Linked DNA regions of Homo sapiens: region 2 is linked to region 1. Evidence: fine-mapped expression QTL. A gene starts in region 1. The other region holds a variant in brackets. All regions are shown on one strand. Distances are from middle to middle. Region 1 holds the start of VAV3 (vav guanine nucleotide exchange factor 3). Region 2 overlaps VAV3 (vav guanine nucleotide exchange factor 3).

The links. PIP is the estimated chance that this variant, and not a neighbour inherited with it, causes the effect. A credible set is the group of variants that fine-mapping cannot tell apart.
Region 2: its variant is the best candidate, but not a certain one, in a credible set for the expression of VAV3 in left ventricle (GTEx, PIP 0.73).

What each region holds. Positions count from the first base shown.
Region 1 is chr1:107,962,701-107,968,149 of GRCh38, forward strand. It overlaps VAV3 (vav guanine nucleotide exchange factor 3), which reads right to left and starts at 2,480. Exons shown (of 27, transcript NM_006113.5): 1 at 1,966-2,480. The coding sequence starts at 2,169. It overlaps VAV3-AS1 (VAV3 antisense RNA 1), which reads left to right and starts at 1,743. Exons shown (of 3, transcript NR_046653.1): 1 at 1,743-1,804. RefSeq lists enhancers at 1,491-1,620, 2,967-3,261, 3,197-3,266.
Region 2 is chr1:107,832,310-107,837,309 of GRCh38, forward strand. All of the region lies in intron 2 of VAV3 (vav guanine nucleotide exchange factor 3), which reads right to left. Among named protein-coding and RNA genes, the nearest start is that of MIR7852, 62 kb to the right of the region's middle. The variant T/C (reference allele first, on the strand shown) is at 2,142.

The DNA of each region.
Region 1 (5,449 bases):
TTGAGGGAAGCACCCTCTCATAGGACATTACAGGAGAAACTGTACTTAATTTGGAACCAGAAACCTCAAGGTTGAACAGACTTAAGAACTCAAAAGTGCAACGGCACAAAGAAGGTCATTAGCTGTCCTACTTACCTTATTATAACCCAGTGATTTACCATCTGATAGCATAGTGTAATAATTCCTTTAGGGCAAGTATCCTGGTGTGCTCATTTTGCTACCCCCACTAGGGAACAGAACTCTTAGAGCATTGTATGTGCTCAATTTTCATTAATGATGCTTATAATGACAATCTTTGGTCATCAGAAAGATTAAATTACATCTAACATAAGAGGAGAAGAGTGAAACACATTCAAAACGATTCTCATCCATTGTTAGCATTCAAATAAAGGCTTCGAGGTTTAAAAAGGTCTTCAGCTGTCCAGAAAACGTGATTATTGAGAGCAACTGCTGAGAGTTCCAGGAAACAAGTTCCAGGAAATGTGCACAGTACTGTACTCCCTACTGGTGGGCCAAGGCATCCTGACCCACGCTGCCTCCTGAGGCTACAGGCAAAGTGGAAAATGGGGATGTGTGAGAGTAGCTAACTGCAGCTCCCACCATAATAGAAAAGTCTGCCAAACCCCTCAAAGGAATTTCCAGAGTTGAGACAACTCTGAAGGGGTACCGAGAGGTAGCAATCACCATGCATGTTTATGGGGGTATAAAATAATTTACCTCACTTTTAAATACGTATGGCTCTCCCCACTTCCATGCCTGTTCTTTCTTAGGGACTGCCCACCAGCAGGTTGAAGGCAAACAGGCAAGGAATGCAGAATCTGAAGTGCAGGGGACCCTGATGAAACACTGACACCAAGAATCACAGATGACTGTGTGTGCTCTAACTTTAAATACATACTTATTAAATCATATAAAGTCCGTTCCTTCTTAAAAGGCGCTGCTCTGGTTGCTAAGTAGCTGAGGCTCTGCGTCATAGAGGATTAGTGCTGAAATGTGTCAGGGAGAGGGCTCTGTCCTCTCCCTTTTAAGTTGAAAGCAGTTTGGTTTTTTGTTTTGTTTTAACATTCTGAAAGAGAAAGAGGCTCTGAACCGAGTTTAACATCCTTCTGTACAAAAATTTTCCGACAGGACAAATAAACTACTCTTCCACTGAACTGTGACTTTTGAGCTGACTCTAGGGTGCACCCAACCTTCCAGAGGTGTCTGGCTTAACCCTCAAAGAGGCAGCTCCAGCCCCAGGAGCCGACCGGCACCACAGCACCTGAGCAGGGCACTGCAGGAAGGAAAGCGGAATCTCTAGTGAAACTTCTCATTTCCTGTCGCTGCTGAGAGAGGCTGGACTCGCTCCTTCTCACATGGCTTAGGAAGAGCTGTAAACGGGAGCTTGCCGGCTGGCCACCAGCTCAGGGGCCCTGGGGGCGGCCTCCGGGTTCTGCTCCCTGTTCTTCCCTTTGACCAATGTCACTCCTGGACAGATAACGGGACCAAACGCCCTTCACTTCCTCGAGTCCTCATGTATGTCATGGTTCCTCTTTTAGGAAAACATGAGTACAAGACGCAAAGCAAAAGAAGAGACTAAAGGCAAATTACCCCATCACCTCGTTTCGTCCCTCCCCTTCGTTATTATAGAAGAGCTTGATCAAATTCCCTTTGTCGCGCCACACACACGCAGAGTAGGTGAAGGGCACCCTAAGACAACTTATTTCTTTCCCGCCTCACAGAAAGCCTTTACGAAATCCTCACACCATCTCCGGACGCAAAGCTTTCGCATTCAGCTTGAGGAGCTAAACCATTTCAAGCCAAGGTAGGAAACGCCAAAGTGGTGCCGAAGTGGTCCCAAAGCAGAAGGCTGGGAAGCAGGGCAAGCTCAGCGCACCTAGACGTTTGCATTTACACAAAGAAATTAGCCGCATGATTAATGGGAGCTGCCGGCTGGAGGCGGGGCGCCCGTGCCGGCCTCCTCACCTGGGACATCTGCGGCCTCAGGTTGATCTCCTTCAGGTTGATGGAGTGCGCCCGGAGGTTGTTAAGCAGCTGGCAGAGCAGGACTCCATCGCGGAGGGTCTGCGCAAGGTCGAACACCTGAGCCGAGTCCCAGGTCACCCGGTGGTTGGTGGGCAGCACCTTGCAATGGATGAGCCACTGCGCGCACTGCTTCCACGGCTCCATGCCCGACGGCTCCGGGACGCGGCTGGGCCGGGGCGGGCGGCAAGGATGCGGCCGCCGCCGCCGCCGCCGCGGTTCCTCCGCGCCCCGCCGACGCCAACAGCCGCCGGCCCTTTCCCCGCGCGGGATCGAGGGAGCAGGAGCCGCGGCTGACGGGTCGCGGGCGCCGCGCTAGGCTCGGCTCCGGTCCCGGCCCGGGTGCGCCGCGACCCGGCCGCCGCTGCAGCGAGTCCCGCGCGCTCTCCGTGCGCCCCGGCCGGCTCGGCGGCGGCTGCCGCGCACAGGCTTCCGACTCCAGCGCCCGGCCCGCCACTGAGCATGCCCAGCACGCCGGCCGGTCTCGCTGCGGTCCGCAAGTCCCCAGACGCGCGGGTGGGAGCGCGCCGGCGGCCGGGGCTGGGGTCTGTGGCCGAGGGCGGGGCGCGGGGGAGGGGCCGGCGGAGGGGGGCGGCGGCCAGAAAGGGGATCCCGCGCCCCCGCCTGCAGCCTTGCGGGGCTCACGCAGCCCCCGGCGTCCTGGGGTCTTCTCTCGGGGCGGCTTCCCGGCTTTGCGGGGAGTGTGGCTGAATACTGTAATACGATGGGGTCCCCCAGGACCCCCTAAACAACAAATGCTCAAAGGAGCGACGGATTAATTGGGGCACCCAGACTCCCCAGAGCAATGAAAAAAGTGCCTAGAGCATCAGTAGAGCACGGCGCTGAAAGTTTTAGAGATCGTCGCCCCCTCGCCCCTTGCAGCTCTATCCCCTCCATTCTCTATAGCTGATTCCTCAGCCTATTCCTCCTAGTTGCCCCTAGTGGTGTTTTGGCACCCTCAAAGTGAGTGAGAGTGCGTGTGTGGAGACGCCTGCGGAAACCGCCCCGATCCCTGAGCCTATTTCCTCGCGAGGTGATTTTCACTTGGAGCTGGTTTGCCCCTGCACTGTCAGGCTCGGAACTGTTTGCCGTTGCTGTTCTGGCCCTTTTGCTGACCCCACAAAAACCTGCTTGAGAAAGGCCTGTGCCACGGTGCTAGACTGCGCATGCGTCGGCGACTGGCGGCCGGGTTTGAGAGCAAAGCGCGTTAGCCCTGGGCAGCTCCTGCCGGGCTGTTCTGGGATCCTTAGTGAAAGTTGGAACTTGACCCCAGAACTTTTGCGCAGTGCACAAGCAGTGCATTCGTGTTTCTTAAGTAAATCTTTTGGAGACTCTAAACCCTACCCCTTTTACTCCCACTGCACACTGCCCCTCAAAACCACAATTAATGTTTAAATTATTTGTGGCAAGATATTGCCACAGTGAATTATTGCTGTTCGATAGGAATGTGGTCCTTCGTCACCCTTTTGAGATGCATTCACTTAAAATTAGAAAATAGGCCGGGCGCGGTGGCTCACGCCTGTAATCCCAGCACTTTGGGAGGCCGAGGCGGGCGGATCACGAGGTCAGGAGATCGAGACCATCCTGGCTAACACGGTGAAAACCCGTCTCTACTAAAAATACAAAAAATTGGCCGGGCGTGGTGGCACGCACCTGTAGTCCCAGCTGCTCGGGAGGCTGAGGTAGGAGAATCGCTTGAACCCATGAGGCGGAGGTTGCGGTGAGCTGAGATCCAGCCACTGCACTCCAGCCTGGACGACAGAGCCAGACTCTGTCTCAAAAAACAAACAAACAAACAAACAAAAAGATGGGAGTTTGGATAATTTAATTGTATTATATTTCTGTAGCCCAAATTTTTTATTACGAACCATGCTTTATAAGCAGGCCAAAATATTATTTTTAAAAGAATGATCTGTTCAGGATAGTGATTGCGTCCTTTTTCGTTTGGCTGTGACAAGGATAGCACACTGTTTACACTCAGCGCTGAACAATAAATCAGCCTGAGGATTTCCTTTCCTCACACGCATCCTTCCCTAGCAATTTCCTCTTGTGTTCAATGCGGATTCCATCAATAGCACGACATTTTCTAGGCCATAATTTTGGCAAATAAATCATACTAATCTCTACATACCTTTAGAAGCAAAATCCAACACATTTGAATCACCATTTAACACAGTCTTTCATAAAGAGAAATTAAAAAGAAATTTCATTAAACGGGTCAAAATTTAAACTAAAACTATGAATTTTTTTCAGGTAGCATCAGATCACCTTTGGATGTTGGAGAATATTTCCAAAATCCACATTATATACACTATCCCAGGACGCAAATCTGGATTTAGAGCCCGAGCTGTACTGCTTTCTAGCAACATGACCTTGGATAAATTCTCTACAGTTCAGTTTCCATAGATACGAAATAAGAAATTTTTTTTTTTTTTTGTGGGGGGTGGACGGAGTCTCGCTCTGTCGCTCAGGCTGGAGTGCAGTGGCGCGATCTCAGCTCACTGCAAGCTCCACTTCCCGGGTTCACGCCATTCTCCTACCTCAGCCTCCCAAGTAGCTAGGACTACAGGCGCCGGCCGCCACGCCCGGCTAATTTTTTTTGTATTTTTAGTACAGACAGGGTTTCACCGTGTTAGCCAGAATGGTCTAGATCTTCTGACCTCGTGATCCGCCCGCCTCGGCCTCCCAAAATGCTAGGATTACAGGCGTTAGCCGCCGTGCCTGGCCATAAGAAGTAATTTCTAACTAATAGGGTTGTTGTCAGGATCAAATGGTACAATGTCTTGCTATTCAAAATGCAGCCTGTGGACAGCAGCATCACCCTTGAACTTGTCAGCACTGTAGACGTTTGGCCTCTACTCTCATACTGAATGAACCAGAACCTGAATTTTAAGATCTCCATATCCCATGTATTTCCATCAAAAGCCAAGAAGCACTGATACAATGCATAGAATGTGTGGTGCCTGATAATTAGAGCTCAATAAATATTACCCAATAGTAGCCACTTTTCATTAACAAGTGGCAACAACGACCAAATATTCTATTTCACTTCTCTGTATATAATATATGACTTCAAAACATAATGCTTCTCAAATATAGTAAACCACAGAGTTGATAGAAAGGCAACAGGAAAATATATGGAAGGCCTAGAAGGGAAGGAGTTTAGTGGAGACACGGGATTCTTCACGTAAACAAGGAGCTAAGTGCCAATAGGTGACTCGTGAAAGACATTTAAGTGTCAGAAATTGGTGCAATAAAAATGCAATGGGCTTCTCACCTGAGTTATCCTTACTAAAGGAAAAAATTACAGTCTTTTCCCTTTACAATTTTTTTTTTTTTTTTTTTGAGACAGAGTCTCACTCTGTCAGCCAGGCTGGAGTGCAGCAGATCTCGACTCACTTCAACATCCGCCTCCCGGGTTCAAGCT
Region 2 (5,000 bases), 130 kb before region 1:
ATATAGACTCACTGTGAACAAGCAGGTGCCTGGAGAGTCAGCAAATGCATCGGCAGAGCAGTTACAATGATAAGAACAGGAAGAACCTTCGAAAATGTTTGGAATTCGTGGACCGGGTCTTTAACAGTCTGAACAATGACCTGCGAGTCTCACAGCAATCCAAAAGGCAGTCCCACTGACTGCCTTCTATTTCTTCATGGCAGCATTTTCAAAATCATCATTTTCATTTCTATCTGAGTCTTTTATAAAATAATTTAAAACACAAACTCCAAATTACTAAAGCTTATTTTTTAATTTATGAACTCTTCCAACTGTCTAATATCCAGGATGTAGTATAATAGGTGTCTTTAACACCTCGGTAGAAATGGCTCCCCTTGTGTCTACCTTGCAATTAATTTATGTTTTCCAAAGTGTTGATGCTTCAATATTCATATTTAAGCTATGGAAATTTTAAAAACAGTAACGCTGTAGAAAATGTAAGCCATTGATTACATTGTACAAAATGTAAACTGCTGAATCATAAGTTAGGAAGAGCAAATAACATACACACATTGTTAATTGAATGCATTCATGCTAGAAAAAGGTCTATGATTCAAAGAACCATACTATTCTATTTTGTGTGCTTGGAATTTTCACTATCAAAAGTTTTAAAAAGTTTGATATAACAGTGAAAATCTAATGAGAAATACATGATTTTTTTCGCAACTAGAAAATCATAGCAAAAAATCATAAAGATAAAATAATTATGAAGATCAAGCATTAACATTTACATTAAGCTTAGCGAGGAAGGCATGTCAAAAGCTGAGGCAAGTCAAAAACTAGGCCTCTTGTGCCAGTTAGACAAGTAGTGAATGTAAAGGAAAAGTTATTGAAGGAAATTAAAGCTGCTACTCCAGTAAATACACAAATGATAAGAAAGTGAAACAGCTTTATTACTGACACAGTGAAAGTTTTCGTGGTCTGGATAGATCAGATCAGCCACAACATTCCCTTAAGCCAAAACATAACTCAAGGCCCTAACTCTCTTCCATTCTGTGAAGGCTGAGAAAGGTGAGGAAACTGTAGAAGAAAAGTTTGAAGCTAACAGAGGTTGGTTCATAAGGTTTTAAGAAAGAAGTCATCTTCATAACATAATTTTAAAATGATGTTAGACCAATCCTTTTTAAAGAAAATATTATCACGTATTTGTTCAAATCTCTCTTCTATACTTTTTCACTTATAACTGAGACTAACAAAATTTTAGAAATTTTTTTTTCTAATTTTTACTTATGTATGTCTATACTTACCTACAACATTCTAGGTTTATCTTTTCCAAAAGTTCATACTCTTTTTCAAGGGATGAGTTCTGAATATTCAGGAATCAATTATACAGTGTGTTTATGACGTGTGGTCAGTGCCTATTTCACTCCCTGTAACCCCACCAAGCAATAGTGAAATGTTCTTGTTATTGTGAAGCTAGCAAAGGTCTAGGGAGTCACTTGGATGACAAGGGTGGCTTCAAAAATGGTGCTAAAATTATTACATGAATCGTAATTAATAATTCCATTCAAGTTCTTCCTTGACTACTACAAGTAATCAAGCACTAGCCATGGCAATGCTTACTCGCATGCAATTTTGTTCACAGTGTCCACTCCTTAGGTTCATTGCTCACATGAGACAGTATCAGATCTCAATAAACCATAACATACTTTTAGTTCTTTTTCAAAAGTAAAACACTTTCACTCACTTTAAGATATTTAGAAACTATAGAGAACTGTAAAGCAGAACCAGGTGTTTTAACTACAGTCAACAATTTGCTGTAAATAATTCTTGTTTTCTCATTATGCAATTTTGTGTGGCCATATATAAACCCATTTTACATTTAAAAATTGCACCCTTATGGACACACACAGAAGAAACATCTCTTAAAGGGAAATAAATGCATGATACACCCGTAAATTATTCCAAAACCACATATACCTGTTCTGAATGTCTTTAGTACCCAATGTCTCTGCTGTTGTCAAGTCATAAATTAGCCCCCTTCAGGATTAGCTCTCATAACTCTTAAACCACTGGGCCCCATGCAGTGCTCTAAGGCAGGAATTTTAAAAATGTTCCATTGCATAAAATCAGTAAGGACACAGGAAAATAACTACAGGAAA[T/C]TGGAATATTCAATTGACAATCTGGAGTACTGTCAATTAGATCAAGTTATTTGATAACTCTACACAATAGCAGAATACGCATTCTGATCAAGCTCACATGGAATAGTCATCATGACAGACCACATTCCAGGCCACAAAACATACCTTAATGGGAGGAATGGGGACAAGATGGCCAACTAGATGCAGCCAGGAAGCCCCTCTCCCACCAAGAGAGACCAAAATATTGAGTAAACCAACATACTTTGAACAGATCTTTGGAGAGAAAGCAATGAGAGTCAATAGAGAGGCAATGCAAACACCAGGGCTGATGAGGAAGGAAGCTGGGAACTCTGCATGGGGTTGCTGAATGCCAGGACTAGTTCCTGGCCTTGAACAGCTCCTAAGGAAGAAGTGAGTGAAGTGACTGTGGGACAACCTACTCTCACCATGGACCTCTGGGATCCTAGCTACAGGAGATCCCATGACCCCCACAGGCTTCTGAACTGACAGGGGCATCTGTCCAGAGAGTAGAAAGAGACAGAGCTCCAGCCTGCATGGAACCCAGGGGTTTTACACATAGGGCAGCTACAGCAAAATGCTCTAATAAGCACCCATCATTCAAGGCTCTCCATCTTCCTCCAAGTAGCTGTAACCCCTGCTGACTGCTAGGCCAGGAGAGAGTAGGGCTATATTTTCTGCAGGACTGGGGCACATCTGTACTGCATGCTCCCCTGTCCACCAGCCGCTATCAAGGCCCCTGCCTGGCTGCTCCCACAAGAGCATGCACACCGCACAGGTTCCATTACCCAGCCTCAGTGCCTTGCCATGGCCCCACATGAGTGCTTTCCTGGAGGCCTAGGAGCACTATGGCTACCCTAGCACAGCTGGTGCCAAGCAGCTAAAGGACAAAGCCTCAGGCTTGTGGCAACCCCCCAGGTTAGAGCAGATGGCTCAGGAGTGACAAGCTGAGATCTATGGCTGGTCCTCAAGCAGGGAAAGAGCACCCACTCTGAACACTGAGAAGAGTGAGATGTGCGGTTTGTGGGCCAGTGTGAGAGCTGGGCATGCCTCCCTCTGCGGGGCTGGTCTGGGAACAGTGTGGTCTATCTGCTAGCTGCAGCCTCTGCCCAATGTAGCCTCATGGCCTAGAACACTTAACAGCCCAATGATCTGGGCAAAGAAAGTTTGGGAAAAAACTAGCAGGTAGGGACAGATTCTACAGTAGCCACCAGAAGGAGATCAGTCAATGGAGAGCAAGCTGGAGGTCCCCACAGCTGTCTGCAGGGCAAAAAACCCCGGCCCATAGGCACCATACCATCTGCACAGCCACAGCATCACTGCTCTGCCCAAAGATCCCCCACCCTTGACCTCTTACATCAACAGACCACCTATGGACATACTCCACAACCCATTCTGACTGTGCCAAGCACAGAGGACCAGCAGACCTCCGGAATTCTGCAGGTTTCTGGCAATCTAACCTTCAGCTCAGGCTGCCCCTAAGGGAAGGGGAAGCACAGCCCATTAGGACATTCCTTAGGGCTAGGGAAACACAGGCATGGTGCCTAAATATATATACACCTAACACTGGAGCATCCAGATTCATAAAACAAGTTTTTAGAGACCCACGAAAAGACAGGCACAAAATAATAGTGAAAGATGTCAACACTCCACTGACAGCATTAGACAGATCATCGAGGCAGAAACCTAACAAAGAAATTATGGACTTAAACTTAACACTTGACAAATTGGACCTAATAGACATTGACAGAATACTCAACCCAACAATCACAGAATATACAATCTTCTCATCTACACACAAAACATAATCTAAGATTGACCATATGTTTAGCCATAAAGCAAGTCTCAATAAATTCAAACAACTTACTCCTGAATGATTTTAAGGTAAACAACAAAATGAAGGTGGAAATCAAAAAATCTTTGAAATTAATGAAACAGAATTACAACATACCAAAATACTTGGGATATAATGAGAGTAGTTTTAAGAGGAAAGTTTATAGCACTAAATGCCTACATCAAAAAGTTTAAAAGTTCTCAAATTAACAATCTAACACTGCACCTACAGGAACTGGAAAAACAAGAACAAAACAAGCTCAAAACTAGCAGAAGAAAAGAAATAAAATCAGCGAAGAACTAAATGAAACTGAGATGCAAATACACATCTAAAAAGTCAACAAAAACAAAAGTTGGTTCTTTGAAAGAATAAATAAGATTGTTAGACCACTGTCTAGATGAACAAAAACAGAAAAGATACAGATAAGCATGATCAAAAATGGCAGATGACATTACCACTGATCCTACCAAAACATAAAAGAACCTCAGACTATTATGAATACCTCTATGCATACAAATTAGAAAAGCTAGAGGAAATATATAAACTCCTAGAATAACACAACCTCCAAGATTGAACCAGAAAGAAATTGAAAACCTGAACAGATCAGTAACACATTCTGAAATTGAATCAGTAATAAGAAACCTACCAACAAAAAAAAACAGGTGGATTCACAGCCAAATTCTTCCTGATGTACAAAGAAAAACTGGTACCAGTCCTGCTGAAGCTGTTCCCAAAAAATCAAAGAGGAAGGACTCCTCCCTAACTGACTCTACAAAGCCAGCATCATCCTAATACCAAAACCTGGCAGAGAAACAATGGGCAAAAAAAAACAAAACGAAACAAAACTTCAAGCTGATATCCCTGATGAATATAGATGCAGAAATCCTTAACAAAATACTAGCAAACCAACTCTAGAAGCACATCAAAAAGTTAGTTTACCATGATGAAGGAGGCCTTATTCCTGGGATGCAATGTTGGTTCAACATATGCAAATCAATAAATGTGATTCACCACATAAATAGAACTAA